2 separate regions of the Homo sapiens genome follow, and region 2 is linked to region 1. A link means that fine-mapping ties the variant in region 1 to the expression of a gene that starts in the linked region. Tissue or cell type: subcutaneous fat. Region 1 holds a variant in brackets; the other region holds the start of a gene. All regions are shown on one strand. Distances are between the middles of the regions.

Evidence for each region. PIP is the estimated chance that this variant, and not a neighbour inherited with it, causes the effect.
Region 2: it holds the start of LYNX1, and the variant in region 1 is fine-mapped to the expression of LYNX1 in subcutaneous fat (GTEx, PIP 0.93).

Annotation. Positions count from the first base shown.
Region 1 is chr8:142,801,384-142,809,383 of GRCh38, reverse strand. No RefSeq gene overlaps it. Among named protein-coding and RNA genes, the nearest start is that of LY6D, 19 kb to the right of the region's middle. The variant C/A (reference allele first, on the strand shown) is at 3,232.
Region 2 is chr8:142,772,765-142,780,764 of GRCh38, reverse strand. It overlaps LYNX1 (Ly6/neurotoxin 1), which reads left to right and starts at 3,563. Exons shown (of 4, transcript NM_177477.4): 1 at 3,563-3,659; 2 at 4,644-4,859; 3 at 5,071-5,172; 4 at 5,402-8,000. The coding sequence starts at 4,808. The coding sequence ends at 5,598. LYNX1-SLURP2 (LYNX1-SLURP2 readthrough) reads left to right here and starts at 2,893. Exons shown (of 5, transcript NM_023946.5): 1 at 2,893-3,006; 2 at 4,644-4,859; 3 at 5,071-5,172. The coding sequence starts at 4,808.

The DNA of each region.
Region 1 (8,000 bases):
CGCTCACACTGTTTCTCACACACACACTTATGCACACACACATACTCTCACACTTAGTCACACTGTCACACACACATTCAGTCTCACATACATCCTCATACTAACACACACTCATACACTCACTGACACTTTCACACTCATATTCAATCTCACATACACACTCATACACATGAACTCATTTCTCACTCATACACTCATGCTATACTAACACACTCACACACATTCTCACACTCACTCTCACACTTATACACACACTCACATTCACTCACATATACACATGCACCACACTCGCATCCTCACACTCACACTTGCACACTCACATTCATACACTATGCTCACTCACACACACACACACTCGTTCACACTCATTCACATTCTCACACGCATACACTGACACTCACACTTTCACACACATACACTCACTGCACACACACTTTCACATTCACTCTCACACTCATATACATGCACTCATACACTCACACTAACACACTCAACTCTCACACTTACACTCATACACTGTCATTCACACACATATTCGTGCACACTTGTACACTCACACATAGCATCACACACACAGTCTTACACAGTCTCATTCACACACTCATTCACTCACATACACACAGTTATACACACGCACTCACACTCATACACTATACTAACACACTTACATCCACACACACCTTACACACACACTCACACACACTCATACACTTATTGTCATTCACACACTCATACACTCACACATCCCCATACACTCACACACACTCAAGCTCATACACTAACACACTCACATGCACTCATTCATTCACATACTTATACACATGCACTCACACTATACTAACACACACTCATATTCACACATTCTCACACTAACACTCATACACTCACTGTCATTCACACTCATACACACACTCATACACACACATGCTCATACACTAACTCAGTCTCACACTCTCATACACTCACACTCTCACAGTCTTACACTCACACACAGCCTCACACACAGTCACACTCACACAGGCACCCATCCGCCCCAGCCCCTGTCCTGCCTCTGCAGCGGAAGGGGCCCAGCCTTGTGCAGATTGGTTACTACTCAGGGCAGGTGGAGCCCAGCACCGGGGATCTCTCCCCAGCCCACTGCTGCTGCTGCTGCGACCCTGCCCCTTCTTTGCTTTCACAGACTCAGAGCCCTGTGGCACTGGGATGGGGGGAGGAAGGGCACATCACAGTCTGTGCCATCCACGGTGGCACTGGCAGCTCACCATGCCTTTCTTCCTGGGGCAGGGCCCTGCAGGGAAGCTGAAGAAATGCTCCCTGCCTCAAAGTACCCATAAGGGGCCTCCTGGCAGGTGTGTGTGGAGCCCCCTCCCCTCCCCTCAGAGGCTGTGTCAGGGCCTGCAACGCCCAGCTGTCCTGTTACACCACGGGTCTCGGTTCCTCCCACCGGCCCTGACCCTCAACCCCACCAAGGGGTGGATGAGGAAACCTTCCCAGGCCTGGGCTGAGGACTGAGGTTGTGTCTGCAAAGGTGCCCGCCCCAGAGTCCAGTCCCTGTCCCATGGCAGCTTTGCAGCTCACACGCTGCCATGACCCATGGCCAGGAAGCCGCTAAGCCCAGAGGTGACCTGGAGTGAGCGGAGCAAGAGGAGCTGAAAGGAAATGATCCTTCCTTTCCACTGGGGGTCAAGGCAATGGGAGCCCACATGCCATGTGTGTCCCCAGATATGTAAGTTTTCAAAGGAGCTAAAAAACAGTTAAAATAAAATACTGTTGACAAATATAACATCAACACCACAGGGAAAGCCTGGTGTTCATTCAAATTCCAGACTCCTTGGCCTTCATGCTGGGAGATGGCTGCAGAGAGAGCCAGTCCCAGCCCTGGAGCTTGCCTGCCCCACCCCCCGACATCCTGCATGGCCCCGACCTGGGCATCCAGCCCCACCTTCCAGCCTTGGGGTGGGTGCCCAGCAGCTTGGCCTAGCTTCCGAGGGTGGATGGAGAAGAGGGCCCTTGGGCTCTTGGGTCTGTGCAGAGGTCGGGAATGGGATTCAGGCCCTCAGGGGCACCTCTAGGGCACAGGTCCAGACAGAGGGGATACAGAGTGCTCCAGACAAGGCAATCTTGCTGATGGGGCAGCAGGGGAGAAGCGTGTTCAGGGTACAAGGGAAGGCCTGGGAAAGGCTGAAGGTGAGTGTAAGTGTCTCATGCAAGGGGTAGAGAGGACTGGAGCCAATCCCAGTGGGGAGGGCAGACAGGATGAGGAGGGGGAGGTGGAAGGAGACCAGAAGGGGAGCCATCCTGAAGCAGGGAGACATTGGGGGTTGGAGGAGAGACTCCCAGGGGATTTGAGCTTGTGAGCTGCTGCCCCTCAGCCTCCAGAACCCCAGAGAGACCCTGAGGATAGAAATGGGGCCAGCCCCACTGTAAACAGGCCATGTCCCGTGACCCTAGAATATCCCTGTCACCCCACAGTCCCCCAGGCCTGGCCTGGGGTTGGATGGGTAGTGATTCAGACATGGCCAGGCTGCCCTGTGCACCTTGGCTCTGCCACTGGCCCAAGCTAAGCCTACCCTAGACAGGCAACACCACCCCAAGGAGCCTGCACCATTCCAGGCCCCGCCCAGGCCTCCACAGCCAGCATTTCGACCGGATCCTAGGTGATTTGTGTGCACACTGAAGATTAAGAAGCACTGGCTCAAAGCTTCCAGCCTCCAGTGCCTCAGTTTCCCCATTAGAATGGGTTTGGTGACCCCTGCCTACCCTGGTGCAAGGGAGAGTGCAGAGGGGAGGGGGCCATAGATATTCAGAAGCACCAGGGATGAGGCTGTACCTACTCAGAAGCGGCGGGGAGGGGGCTGTACGTACTCAGAAGCGGCGGGGAGGGGCTGCACATACTCAGAAGCAGCGGGGAGGGGGCTGTACGTACTCACAAGTGCGCTGGGCAGTCCCCCCAGGCTGCAGAGGTAGAGCCATGACCCTCTGAGAACACCCAGGACAGGGCCCAAGCTGCAGGGAGTAGGGGCCCAGAGGCTCAGGACCAAGGGACAGCAGAGAGGGGGGCACAGGAGCCTTCTGAGAGTCCTGGAGGTGGGGCAGAGTGAGGCCTAGTGGCATGAGTCAGGCCGGCCCTGCTCTCCCCAGCGCATCTTCCGGCTAAATTACCAGGTCTGGCTCAGTCGCCGGCCACCATATAAAGGCGCCTTTGCACTGTGGCTCCCAGTCCCTGGCGGA[C/A]AACCCCGCGATGAGGCTTCTCCTGGTGCTGCTGCTTCTGGCTGCTGTGTGTGCTGCCCTGGGTAAGACGCTGGCCACACCAGGGGAGGGACAGGGGCAGGTGGCTCCTGGGCTGGGCACCCCGGGACCGGGCGCTGGCAGGGCAGGCTTTGCCAAGGATCACCAGCCTGGACTGCGGGCTGCAGGGAGTTGGGGGAGGCCTCTTCCTATGGGCACAGCTTCTGGTGTCTTTGTGGCTTGTGTGGGGAAAGCCCCGATGCTGGTCCTGGGTTCCAGCCTGGGTTCCATCCCCCTTTTCCCAAGACAGAGGGGAATTCTTGGGATGTTGGACTCTGAGTGCTAAAAAAGAAAGTCCTAAGAAAACCAGGGCTAGTTGGTCACCGCCCTAGCCCCACTCTACCCTGACCTTGATGACCTGGCTTTGGGGCCTGAAAAGGGGCCAGGAGGCAGGGGGTGTGGGTGGGAGGGACAGAGCATGTGATTATCAGCTGAAAAATTATCATCTAGCGATAATTAGCCCCATCAGCTTCTCCTGAGCGTGGGGTGAGGGTAGGGGGGAAGTGGGGAGGGCTGGAGACTTTGGAGAGCAGCCCCAGCTTGAGGAGGGGCCTGCAGTGGGAAGGCTGGAAAGACAGATGGAGGGGGCATCAGGAAAGGGCAGGAGTCAAGGTCAGGCTGCCCAAGCTGATCGGATCCCTCCAGCCCCTATACGGAAGGGCACAACCCTTCCATATATCAGGGCACAACCATGGGAGAGAAGGGGCCAAGGGTGCTAAGTCAGGACATGGGGACACTGGCCTGGGACACCTGTGCTCTCTGGGGCTTACTTTGCTTTTCTGGAAAGTTGGCCCATATGATGCTGACGGTCAGACAGCACCTGCTGGGAGCTGGTCACTGCTCCCAGGATCTAATGAGGGTGACCCCTTCATTCCCATCACAGCCCGAGGGCTTAGGGATTACCAGGATCCCTACGGAGAAGTGGCGGTAATGTAAGGTCCTTGTTCAGAGGAACCTAGGAGTGTTTCCCGGCCCCACCAGCACCAGGAACCCAGCTGTAGGCAGGGAGAGCAAGAAAGGTCAGGGTCAGACCCCAAGAACATGGATATCAGCTGCACAGGTGCGGAAGATGCAATCACCCCACGCAGCAGGCACTCGCTCTGAAGTCAGAGCAGGTGTGCTTTGCCCAGGGAACTGCTACAGGACACCCCCATCAAGACCACCCTACAGGAAGCCTACAGGGCACCCGTTATAGAAAACCCCTACAGAACATACCTAAAAGACACCCCTACAGAACACCCCCTAAACAACATCCCCTACAGAATACCCCATAAAAGACACATCTACAGGACATTCCCTACAGAGCACCGCCTGCAGTACACCCTTACAGGACCCCTGTACAGGGCACTGCTACGGGACACTCCCTACAGGACACCCTTACAGGAAACCCCTACAGGACACCCCTGCAGAACACCCCTAGAGGACACCCCTACAGAACATCTCTACAGGACGCCCCTACAGAACACCCCCTACAGGAAACCCCTTCAGGACACCCCTACAGGACCCCCGTACAGGGGCACTGCTTGAAGACACTCCCTACAGGACACCCCTTACAGGAAACCCCCACAAACCCCCCTTACGGGAAACCCCTAAAGGACACCCCTAGAAAACACCTCCTACAGGACACCCCTACAGAACACCTCCTACAGGACACCCCTACAGAACACCTCCTATAGGACCCCCCTACAGGATACTCCCTACAGGGCGTCCCTACAGAACACCTCCTACAGGATACTCCCTACAGGATACTCCCTACAGGACACTCTCTACAGGACACCACTACAGGACACTCCCTACAGAAAACCCCTACAGGAAACCTCCTACAGGACACTCCCTACAGGATACTCCCTACAGAAAACCCCTACAGGAAACTTCCTACAGGACACTCCCTACAGGATACTCCCTACAGGATACTCCCTACAGGAAACCCTCTACAGGACACTCCCTACAGGACATTCTCTACAGGATACTCCCTACAAGAAAACCCTACAAGATACTCCTACAGAAAACCTCTACAGGACACTCCCTACAGGACACTCCCTACAGGAAACCTCCTACAGGACACCCCCTACAGGACACCACCTACAGGAAACCCCTACAGGACACCCCTATATGACACCCCTACAGTACACCCCCTATAGGACACCTGAACAGGACACCCCCTACAGGACGCTCCCTACAGGACACTCCCTACAAGACACTCTTACAGGAAACCTCTACAGGACACTCCCTACAGGCTCCCTACAGGAAACCCCTACAGGACCTGCCTTACAGGAAACCCCTACAAGGCGCTCCTACAGGAAACCTCCACAGGACACTCCCTACAGAAAACCCCCTACAGGACACTCCCTACAGGACACCCCCTACAGGACACTCCCTACAGGACACCCCTACAGGACACCCCTACTGGACACCCCTATAGGACACTGTACAGGACACCCCCTACAGGACACTCCCTACAGGAAACCCCTACAAGACACTCCTACAGGAAACCTCTACAGGACACTCCCTACAGGAAACCCCCTACGGGACACTCCCTACAGGGCACCCCCTACAGGACACCCCTACAGGACGATCCCTATAGGACACCTGTACAGGATATCCCCTACAGGACACTCCCTACAGGACACTCTGCAGGACGCTCCTACAAAACACTCCCTGCAGGACACCCCCTACAGGACACCCTTACAGGACACTCCCTACAAGACACCCCCTACAGGACACCCTTACAGGACACCCCTACAGGACACTCCCTACAAGACATCCCCTACAGGACACTCGTACAGGACACCACCTACAGGACACCCCTACAGGACACCACCTACAGGATACCCCCTATAGGGCACCTTTCTCACTACCTCCACCCCCAAGTCCTGGTACAAAAGGCTCAAAGATGCCTTTCCAGGCAGCACAGCCTCCACACCAGGATGTGGTGTTTCTGGCTTCTCCACCCACTGTCACGCCCTGTCACAGCTCCTGGGGCCTCACACCCTGAACAATCTGGCCTTCCCTCTTCCTTGCTGCACCTTCTGTCCAAATGTCTCTCCTCCAACTACAAATAGAAATCCACCACCCATGTCCCTACAGGGCCACCCACTCCAGGAAGCCTTCCCAGATCTCCCTGCCCTCTATCAAAACTGTGTTCCCTCTTGGCCAAGTGTCTCCCCAGGGCATCCATTGTACCTTGCCCTTCTTCCATAGGTCCCCATGACTGTACATCTCAGCCTTGTCCATGGAGCCCGTGGACCCAGTCCTCAATGTCGTTGGAAGCTGGGGGCAACCACACAGCACACAGGTGCCAGCCAGGAACACAGCCCACCCATGTTCCTCCCACTTGCAGCCTGGACCAGGGCCTGGCTGCAGATCCCTACATGGCTGGGGTATGGGCATCACCAGCAGGCTTCAGGCAGATAGCCCTCTCAACAGCCCTTAAGCACCTTCTGTATGTGAAGTCCCCAGAGCCACACCTGCCCTAGGAAAGGCAACCCAGCTGCCTCTGGCTTCCCTGCCTGGAGCTTCCTGCAATCCTTTTCCAGTAAAGAAGGGTGGGGCAGGGGCCAATGTTTTGTGCATTTCATCATTTCATCCTCCCAAAAGACCACAGCATGGGCTGTTATTACTCCCATTTGGTAGGTGAGGAAACTTTGATTCAGACAGAAGATGGGGACAGTAAGAAGTATAACACAGGTCACCTTGAAGTTACCCCTCCTTGTATGCGTCATGCTGCCCCATCCCTTCTCTCCACCATTTGCCACTCTACCCATGCATCCTTCCATCCACCCACTTGCCCATCCACCCACCCACCCAACCACCCTTCCATCCATCCATCCAACCATCCACGCACCCACCCATCCATCCTTCTATCCATCCACCCACTCACCCATCCACCCACCCACCCATTCACCCTTCCATCCATCCACCCACCCATTCATCCACCATCCACCCACCCATCTACCCTCCCATCCACCCATCCATTCACCCATCCATCCATCCACCCACCCCTCCTCCCTTCTACTCGTCCACCTGCCCATCCACCCACTCAGCCATCCACCCACCCATCCACCCTTCCATCCATCCATTTGCTCTTTCATCCATCCACGCACCCACCCATCCACCCACCCATTCACTCTTACACCCACCCATCCATCCACCCACCCTTTCACCCATTCACCTGCCCATCCATCCACCCTTTCACCCATCCACCTTTCCATCCACTCACTCACCCATCCACCCTTCCACCCACTCACCCACCCATTCACCCTTCCATTCATCCACCCACTATCCACTCTTCCACTTATCCACCCACCCATGCTTCCGACCACCCATCCATCCATCCATCCACCCACCCACCCTTTTATCCACTCACCCACCCACCACCCACCCGTTCACCCTTCCATCCATCCACCCACCCATCCACCTTTCCACTCGTTCACCTACCCACCCACCCACCCATCCACCCACCTAACAACCACCCCTTCATCCATCCATCTTTCTCCTGATTTAGCTGATGTGGCTCCACTACATTCTCTAGCATCCCCAGTCCTCTACCCAGTGGCAGTTTCAGAGGGCAGGGAGGCAGATGTGTGCATGAGTTTACAGGTGCTAGGGAAGCCGTGGGAAGAAAAGTGGCTGGGAAGACCCTTCGTGAGACCTGGGGCAGCCTACACCTGCCCCACACATATCCCTCCCTCATGCTGACAGCCTGACATTCA
Region 2 (8,000 bases), 29 kb after region 1:
TTTGCATTTTCATTCAGTTGGAAATATTTTCTGATTTCCTTTTTGGTTTCTCCTTTGACCTATAAGTTGTTTAGAAATATGTTATTACTCAGTTTCTAAATATTTGATGATCTTTTAGATATATTTCTGTTATTGATTTCTAATTTAGCTCCATTGTAGTCCAAGCAAATAATCTGCATGATTTTAATCCGTATAAATTTACTGAGATTTGTTCTATGGCCCAGAATACAGTCTGCCTTGGAGGACATTATTGGTAAATAAAGGTGTGTTCCCCTTCTGTGAGGTGGAGTGTCCTACAAACATCAAGTTGGTCATGTTGACTGGTAATGTGATCCACGTCTTCATCCTTACAGACTTTTTGTCTATTTTTTATCAGTTCTCGAAAGAGGAGTGTTGAAATCTCTGTTATTGTGGATTTTCTTTTTCTCCTTTCAGTTCTATCAGATGTTGTTTGTTTTGCTTTGTGTATTTTGAAGCTTAATTGTTAGGTGCATACATATTTAGAACTGCTGAGTCCTCTTCATGAACTGATCAATTTATCATTTGGTAATGTCCCTCTTTTTAAATTTTTTTTCTTTCTTTCTAGTACAGATAGTGTTTTGCTGTTTTGCCCTGGCTGGTCTCAAACTCCTGGCCTCAAGCAATCCTCCCACCTCAGCCTCCCAAAGTGCTGGGATTGCAGATGAGAGCCACTACACCTGGCCAGTAATGCTCCTCTTTATTTCTGATTATAGTCTTTGCTTTAAACCTACTTTGATATTGACGTAGTCATGTCTGTGTTCTTTTAATTGGTGTTAGCATAGTATATCTCTCTCCATCTTTTTACTTTTATCTTATTTGTGTTTTTACATGTCTGGTGAGTTTCCCACTGACAGCATATACTTGGCTGTTTCTATTTTTATCCAATCTGACAACCTCTGTTTTTAATTGAGATGTTTTTGTTTGTTTTTGAGGCAGAGTCTCACTCACTCTGTCGCTCAGGCTGGAGTGCAGTGGCACCATCTCAGCTTACTGCAACCTCTGCCTCCCAGGTTCAAGCAATTCTCCTGCCTCAGCCTCCCAAGTAGCTGGGATTACAGGCACCCACCGCCATGCCCAGCTAATTTTTGTATTTTTTAGTAGAGAGGGAGTTTCACCATGTTGGCCAGGCTGGTCTGGAACTCCTGACTTCAAGTGATCCACCTTCCTCAGCCTTTCAAAGTGTTGGGATTACAGGTTAGGATTACAGGTGTGAGCCACCGTGCTCAGCCTGATTGAAGTGTTTAGATGACATAGTGTCATTATTGCTGTGGCTGGGTTTAAATATATGTCATCTTGCTATTTGTTTTCTATTTGTCTCATTGTTTTTTCCTTTCTCCTCTTCTGCAGTCTCTGTAACATGTGCTTTTATAAATAAATAATTCTGTATCATCACTTTTGTTGATTTATTAACTACAGTGCTTTGACTTTTGCTTTTTTCTTTGTCTTTTTTTAGTGACACTTTAGCGTCTTAGCATACACCTTTGACTTACTAGTCTACCTCCAAGAAATAGTAGGCCACTTCACATAGAGTAGAATAAATCTACAACAGTGAACTTCCATTGTCCCTCTCCTGGTCTATTTGTATTACTATTTTTTTTTAAATTTATTTGACACAGCGTCTTGCTCTATCACCCAGGCTTCAGTGCAGTAGCGTGATCACAGCTCACTGCAACCTCCACCTCCTGGGTTCAAGTGATTCTCCCACCTCAGCCTCCTGGGTGCAACCTCAGGTGTGCACCACCACACCCAGCTAATTTTTTGGTATTTTTTTTTTTTTAGAGATGAGGTCTCTCTACGTTGCCCAGCCAAGCCTGGTCTTGAACTCCTGGGCTCAAGCGATCCACTCGCCTCAGCCTCCCAAAGTGCTGGGATTACAGGCGTGAGCCGCGGTGCCCAGCCTGCACTACTATTATCATACAATTTACTTCTACATTTGCTATAAATTCCTTAATACATTGTTATTATTTTTGCTTTAGGTAATCAACTATCTTTTAACTTGATTCAAAAATAAGAAAAAAATTACCTTCTATTTCCTATTTCTGGTGTCATTTATTCCTTTGTGTAGATCCGTATTTCTGCCTGAAGAACTTCCTTTAACATAAAGGTCCCCAACCCCTGGGTCACAGACCGGTTAGGAACCACGCCACACAGCAGGAGGCGAGCGCTGGCGGGCGGGCAAGGGAAGTTTCATCCGTATTAATTCATCGTGGTCTGAGGCTGAAGACCGCGACATACTCTGGTTCTGACCTATGCGTTCCTTCCACGCCCCTTATCCCACCAGAGTGTGAGCTCCATGGGGTGGGAATATTCTGGAACGTCTGCTGGTTTTATTCTTTGCCTTCTCCCCAACTAGGACCTGGCACAGGAGGGTGCGCATTACCTCTCGGCAAACAGAACAACTAACTGGCCTAGTTTGCTGGGGACCGAAGGATTTCCTGGAACCGGAGCCCGCTTGCCCAGCAGGCATGGTGTATTCTGTACCTCAGGCCCGCAAAAATGTTTTAAAGAAAAAAATGAGCTTTAGGGTAGAAGAAAAGGTTTTATTTTTCTTTCTCACATTGGAAAAAATGAAAACTTTCGGACCCATGAAATTTTATTACATTTTGCCAAAAACAGAACCAATAACATAAGTATTCAAAGTTATGTAAAGATAATTATTTAATATGAACATTATGATGGTGAGAGGGACCACGGAGCAAGGGGCTGCCTTGCAGGCCTGCCTTCCAGCTTTGCTACAGGGACCAGAAGCGGGAGCTGAGCGCAGGGGAGGCAGGCGGAGGCCATGGGCAGCGAGGCGGGTGCGCCAAAGGGCGCCAGTTCCGGAGCTGCTGGGCCTGGGCTGCAGGAGGGCGGAGCTGGGGCCGCAAGGCTGGTGCCGGCCGACAAACGACGCGGCGCGGGCGAGTGGGCGGAGGCGGCTGCGGGGAAGGCTGGGCTGCCGCGGGACGCGGTGAAGATAGCCTGCGGAGTGTCCGGGCTGAACACGTGAGTCTGAGGGTCGCCAGGGAATCACTGCGTGGCTGCCTCTGTGTCGGAGATCCAGATGCCTGGACTGGCCTCGGGGTCCCAGCGCTTGCCCGGCGAGCCGGCGGTCCGGGGACGGGTCCGGGCCGAGGCCTGCGGTGAACTCGGCTCGGCGGGTGCCCAGGAGGCGGGTCCGGGGCGGGGCCTGCGGTGAACTCGGCTCGGCGGGTGCCCAGGAGGCGGGTCCGGGGCGGGGCCTGCGGTGAACTCGGCTCGGCGGGTGCCCAGGAGGCGGGTCCGGGGCGGGGCCTGCGGTGAACTCGGCTCGGCGGGTGCCCAGGAGGCGGGGCAGGGGCGGGGCCTGCAGTGAGCGCGGCTTGGTGAGTAGCCCAGGAGGCGGGTCCGGGGCGGGGCCTGCGGTGAGCTCGGCTCGGGGGGTTGCTCAGGAGGTGGGGCCGGGGCAGGCCTGGGGCGGGGCCTGCGGTGAGCTCGCGCTGGGCGGGCTGTTCCGGGGGCGGGACTGGGCTGGGCCTGCGGTGAGCATCAGGCGATGCGGCACGGGTGCTGCGGGACACACAGACACGCCTACGATTAGACTCAGGCAGGCACCTACCGGCGAGCGGCCGCGGGTGACTCCCAGGCGCGGCGGTACCTCACGGTGGTGAAGGTCACAGGTGAGGTCACCCTGATAGTCCCGCTCGCGCCGAGAGCCCTCCCCTCGACCTGGGACCGCAGTGTTTGGGGCGGGGCTCTCCGTGAGGGGGTTGGGAAGCTCGAAGCCGCAGGCCTGACTCTGGCCTTTGGCATCCTGGGGTTGGCCTGGGCAAATGTGTCGTGAGAGACGGATTTGTTGTTCTCGGGAAGGCGTAAGTTTAATTTAGTCCTCCAGGACGGAGACCGAGGGCCGAGTATCCCGGCAGGGGTAGGAGAGCCGTAATCCAACCCCCACCTCCCCACTGTAAACCTCTTTCCAGAGAGGGCATTCCCGTTCCAAACACCAGACCCAGCCGGGGAAATGCTTCTTCTTGTCTGGCCCAAGTGCCCTCCTGGGAGGGGCTCAAAATGCATTCCCCCCAAGCTGGGCACAGCTCATCCCTGCTGGGGAGCTTCTGCAGTGGCCGAGGACTCAGACAACCCTAACCAGGGCTCTGGAGGTCTTCTGGAAGAAGGAACCCCAAGTAGGGACACCCCAGGAGCAGAGAGGAGGGGAACAGCGAGAAGAGACCCAGCTTTTGGGCCCAGTCCTGCCATGGCCAGCCATCCGGCCCCCAGGGCCCTGCTTGGGATGGGGCTGCAGACCACCTCCCATGGGACCTCTGCACCAACCATCCCCTGGGTAAAATCCTTGTTTAGGCCTGGTATTTAAGGCCCCTCTGCCCATCCCTACTCCTTCTCTAGCACTGCCCCTCATCCTCCCCCCATCTCTCCTCCATCCAGCGCTACAGGCTGTTTTGAGCTTTTGCAGGTGCTGGTCTCTGATTGAAATGTCCTGATCTCTTCTCCCTTCTTGTCCCATCCCAAGTGTCTCCTCCTCCAGGAAACCTTCCCTGACACCCACTGAGTTAGGTGGCCCCTCTGCCCACCATCATCCCTGCCCAGGCCCCCATGGGTCCTTCAGGCCCAGTACTGACCACCTGTCTTTGCCACCTGCTGTGCAGGGTTGCAGCACTCCCAGTAGACCAGGAGCTCCGGGAGGCAGGGCCGGCCCCACGTCCTCTGCGCACCACCCTGAGTTGGATCCTCTGTGCGCCACCCCTGAGTTGGATCCAGGGCTAGCTGCTGTTGACCTCCCCACTCCCACGCTGCCCTCCTGCCTGCAGCCATGACGCCCCTGCTCACCCTGATCCTGGTGGTCCTCATGGGCTTACCTCTGGGTAAGATGGACAAAGGACAGAGGGATGGGCAGACCCACTTTGAGGGCAGATGGGCTGACAGTAGGGAAGGAGGCTAGAATTCCCAGCGACAACCCCTCCTTCTAGCCCCCTGCCCCGGGGAAGGTGACGGGCTGGGGGCCTGATGGGCTGGAGGAGGGGCCTCTCATGTTCTGTGACCCCCGTTCCCTTCCCGCCCATCTGCCAACCCCAGCCCAGGCCTTGGACTGCCACGTGTGTGCCTACAACGGAGACAACTGCTTCAACCCCATGCGCTGCCCGGCTATGGTTGCCTACTGCATGACCACGCGCACCTGTGAGTCTGGGGGCCCTGCGTGGCCCTGCCTGGGGAGCACGAAGGGGAGGTTCTGCCCTGCCCCTGAGCATGCGGGGGTCCTGAGGAAGGAGGCTCTCCTGTTCCCGGATCCTGTCTGGGAGCTCCAGGCTGAGGGGCCCTGCCCTGATGGCTGTGGATGCTGGGGTGGGGCCAGCTGGGTCTCCTGCCCCTCTTAGCGGAGCTGGCTCACCGCCCCGCCCCTCTGCAGACTACACCCCCACCAGGATGAAGGTCAGTAAGTCCTGCGTGCCCCGCTGCTTCGAGACTGTGTATGATGGCTACTCCAAGCACGCGTCCACCACCTCCTGCTGCCAGTACGACCTCTGCAACGGCACCGGCCTTGCCACCCCGGCCACCCTGGCCCTGGCCCCCATCCTCCTGGCCACCCTCTGGGGTCTCCTCTAAAGCCCCCGAGGCAGACCCACTCAAGAACAAAGCTCTCGAGACACACTGCTACACCCTCGCACCCAGCTCACCCTGCCTCACCCTCCACACTCCCTGCGACCTCCTCAGCCATGCCCAGGGTCAGGACTGTGGGCAAGAAGACACCCGACCTCCCCCAACCACCACACGACCTCACTTCGAGGCCTTGACCTTTCGATGCTGTGTGGGATCCCAAAAGTGTCCGGCTTTGATGGGCTGATCAGCCCCTCGCCTGTCCAGGGCTATTTATGGGGAGGGGCCCAGTCAGGCAGGGAGCACTGAGCAGATGGGAGCTGTGGCCAAGCCCACCTTCTGGGAAGCCCTAGGAGAGGCCCCTGCCTCAGTCTGCCCCTGGTGTGCTGGGGCAGGGGGAAGACAAGGAATGCCCGCAGGTGGGGTGGTGGGGAGACTCTTAGGAGGAAAGGCTCCTCCAGGCCTAGTCACGCTTCCTACTGAGGCCAGGAGCTGCCAGGACCGGTACGGGATCAGGGCTGTGGGAGGAGGGCCTTTGGCACCGGCCCCTGTGCTAGGAAGTCTGCCAGGCCCGAGTTGGAGCCACCCCCTGCAGGGGAGGGGGCGGCTCTGCCTCAGCAGGCCCCAGGGCCCCCGAAGTCACAGAAGCTTTTTCGGGTCCAGCAAGGGGTGTGTGTCCTCTCAGTCAAACCCCTTGACGTTTCCCACCCCCTCACGGGGAGGGCACCAGGCCTGAAGCTGGCAGGAGCTAGGGCCATGCTATATTTGGTGGGTCCTGGACGCTGACCCGGCCAGCGCTATTCTGGGCAGGGAGGGAAAGGGGCAGAGCAGGTGGTCCCCCGAGTCCTGGTCCCCAACCACAGCAGGACCCAGCCGAGCAAGGCAAAAGACGCAGGACTGGGGGATGCGCGCACAGGCTGGGGGTTGGGAGCAGCCTGGGGCCGGCGCGGGCCTGGGCGTGGGAAGGCGGAGCATGCCACCCTCTCGTGGCCGTGCGGGGGCGGGAGTGGGGAGGGTGGGGTGGGGAGGGCGGAGACCCAGCCCCTCCCCCGCAGCGGGATGCGCACAGTGAGTGGGTCCCTCCATCACCTTCCACCTGGGGATGCACCCACTGGGAGGGCAGGGTGGAAGCCCCAGCTGGGTGTGTGGACTCCCAGGGACCCCACCCCAGGCCTGGGAAGCAGGGGTCAGCCCAACACGCACCAATCCATCCCCGATGCAGGTAGCCCAGGGAGCACCTGCCCCTGCTGTGAATGGGGCATTCGGGGGCGTGAGACCTTTTGGTGCCAGCGGTCACGCTGCACCTGAGGCCCCCACCTGACCAGTGCTCCCAGCTCTGGTGTCCTGAGAAACCCTTCAAGCCATCCCGCATGGGCAGGATGGTGACATATCCATGTGGTAGGATTGTCCCGGCCCCAAAGTATGGCCCTGGTCAGGGGAGCCCCTGCTGGAAATTGCATCTCCAGAGCTTTGATGCAGGACCCCTGGGGGATCAGGGAATGAGGGTCTCCACCCCAGGGGTCTCCTTGCAGTGAGTCTATATGCAGGCCTGCGTTCTGCTCCTGGGGCTGGTTCTGAGTGCCCAGCTTCAGTCTCCTGAGAACATGAGGATGGGAGGGGGCAGAGTCTTGCTGAGGGCACACCCAGTTCCCGCTGGAGGAGGACAGTGCCAGTCTTCTGCAAAGGGACCTTGGGTGGGAACGGGCCCGGAGCGGGAGGAACGTGACTCCCCAGAGGGAAGATGGGCATCATACTGGGCCCAGAGCTGGGAAGGAGTTGCTGCCAGCACAGGGTGGGCCTGGACTCCCCTCGCCCCTACCCCCAGTGGTTGTGGCTGTAGCCCTAAGCCTGGAGAGCAGGACCGGCCCGGGGTGTCTGGGAGGCTGCCAGGTGCCTCCCAGAGCTCCCAAGGGCCCCCACCTGCAAGTGCCAGCCTCAGGGCAGTGCCCAAATGAGGCCCTCTCAGCTGCAGCCAGCGATGCCTTGGGATGCTTACCGGGAGGGAGGCGGCTTTGGGCTCCTAAGTCCTTGGGAGAGGCTGGGAGCAGTCACTGCGCGGCTTGCGCAAGCCCATTGTCGGGTTGGGTGGCTTCCTCAGCCAGGGCTGGGAGGGACTCCAGGATCAGGTCCTCCCTGTCTCGAGTCTCAGTGGGGTGATGGGGAGGAGACCTGGCCACCCATGGCTCAGGGGCAGCTGAGAACAAGGACCTGCTGGAGCTGGAAGTGCTGTGGTGTTGAGGGGTGGGGTGGGCAGCTTCTCACACCTGCCTCCTGCCTCCTTCTGTCCACCTTTCCACCACCCTGACCTGTCCCAGCCCCACACATGGTTCTGCCTGGCTGGCCTGCCCTTGGCACCTGGCGTAGAGCACACAGAAGGCACTCAGCTAATGCTGGGCAGGCCCACTCATGGG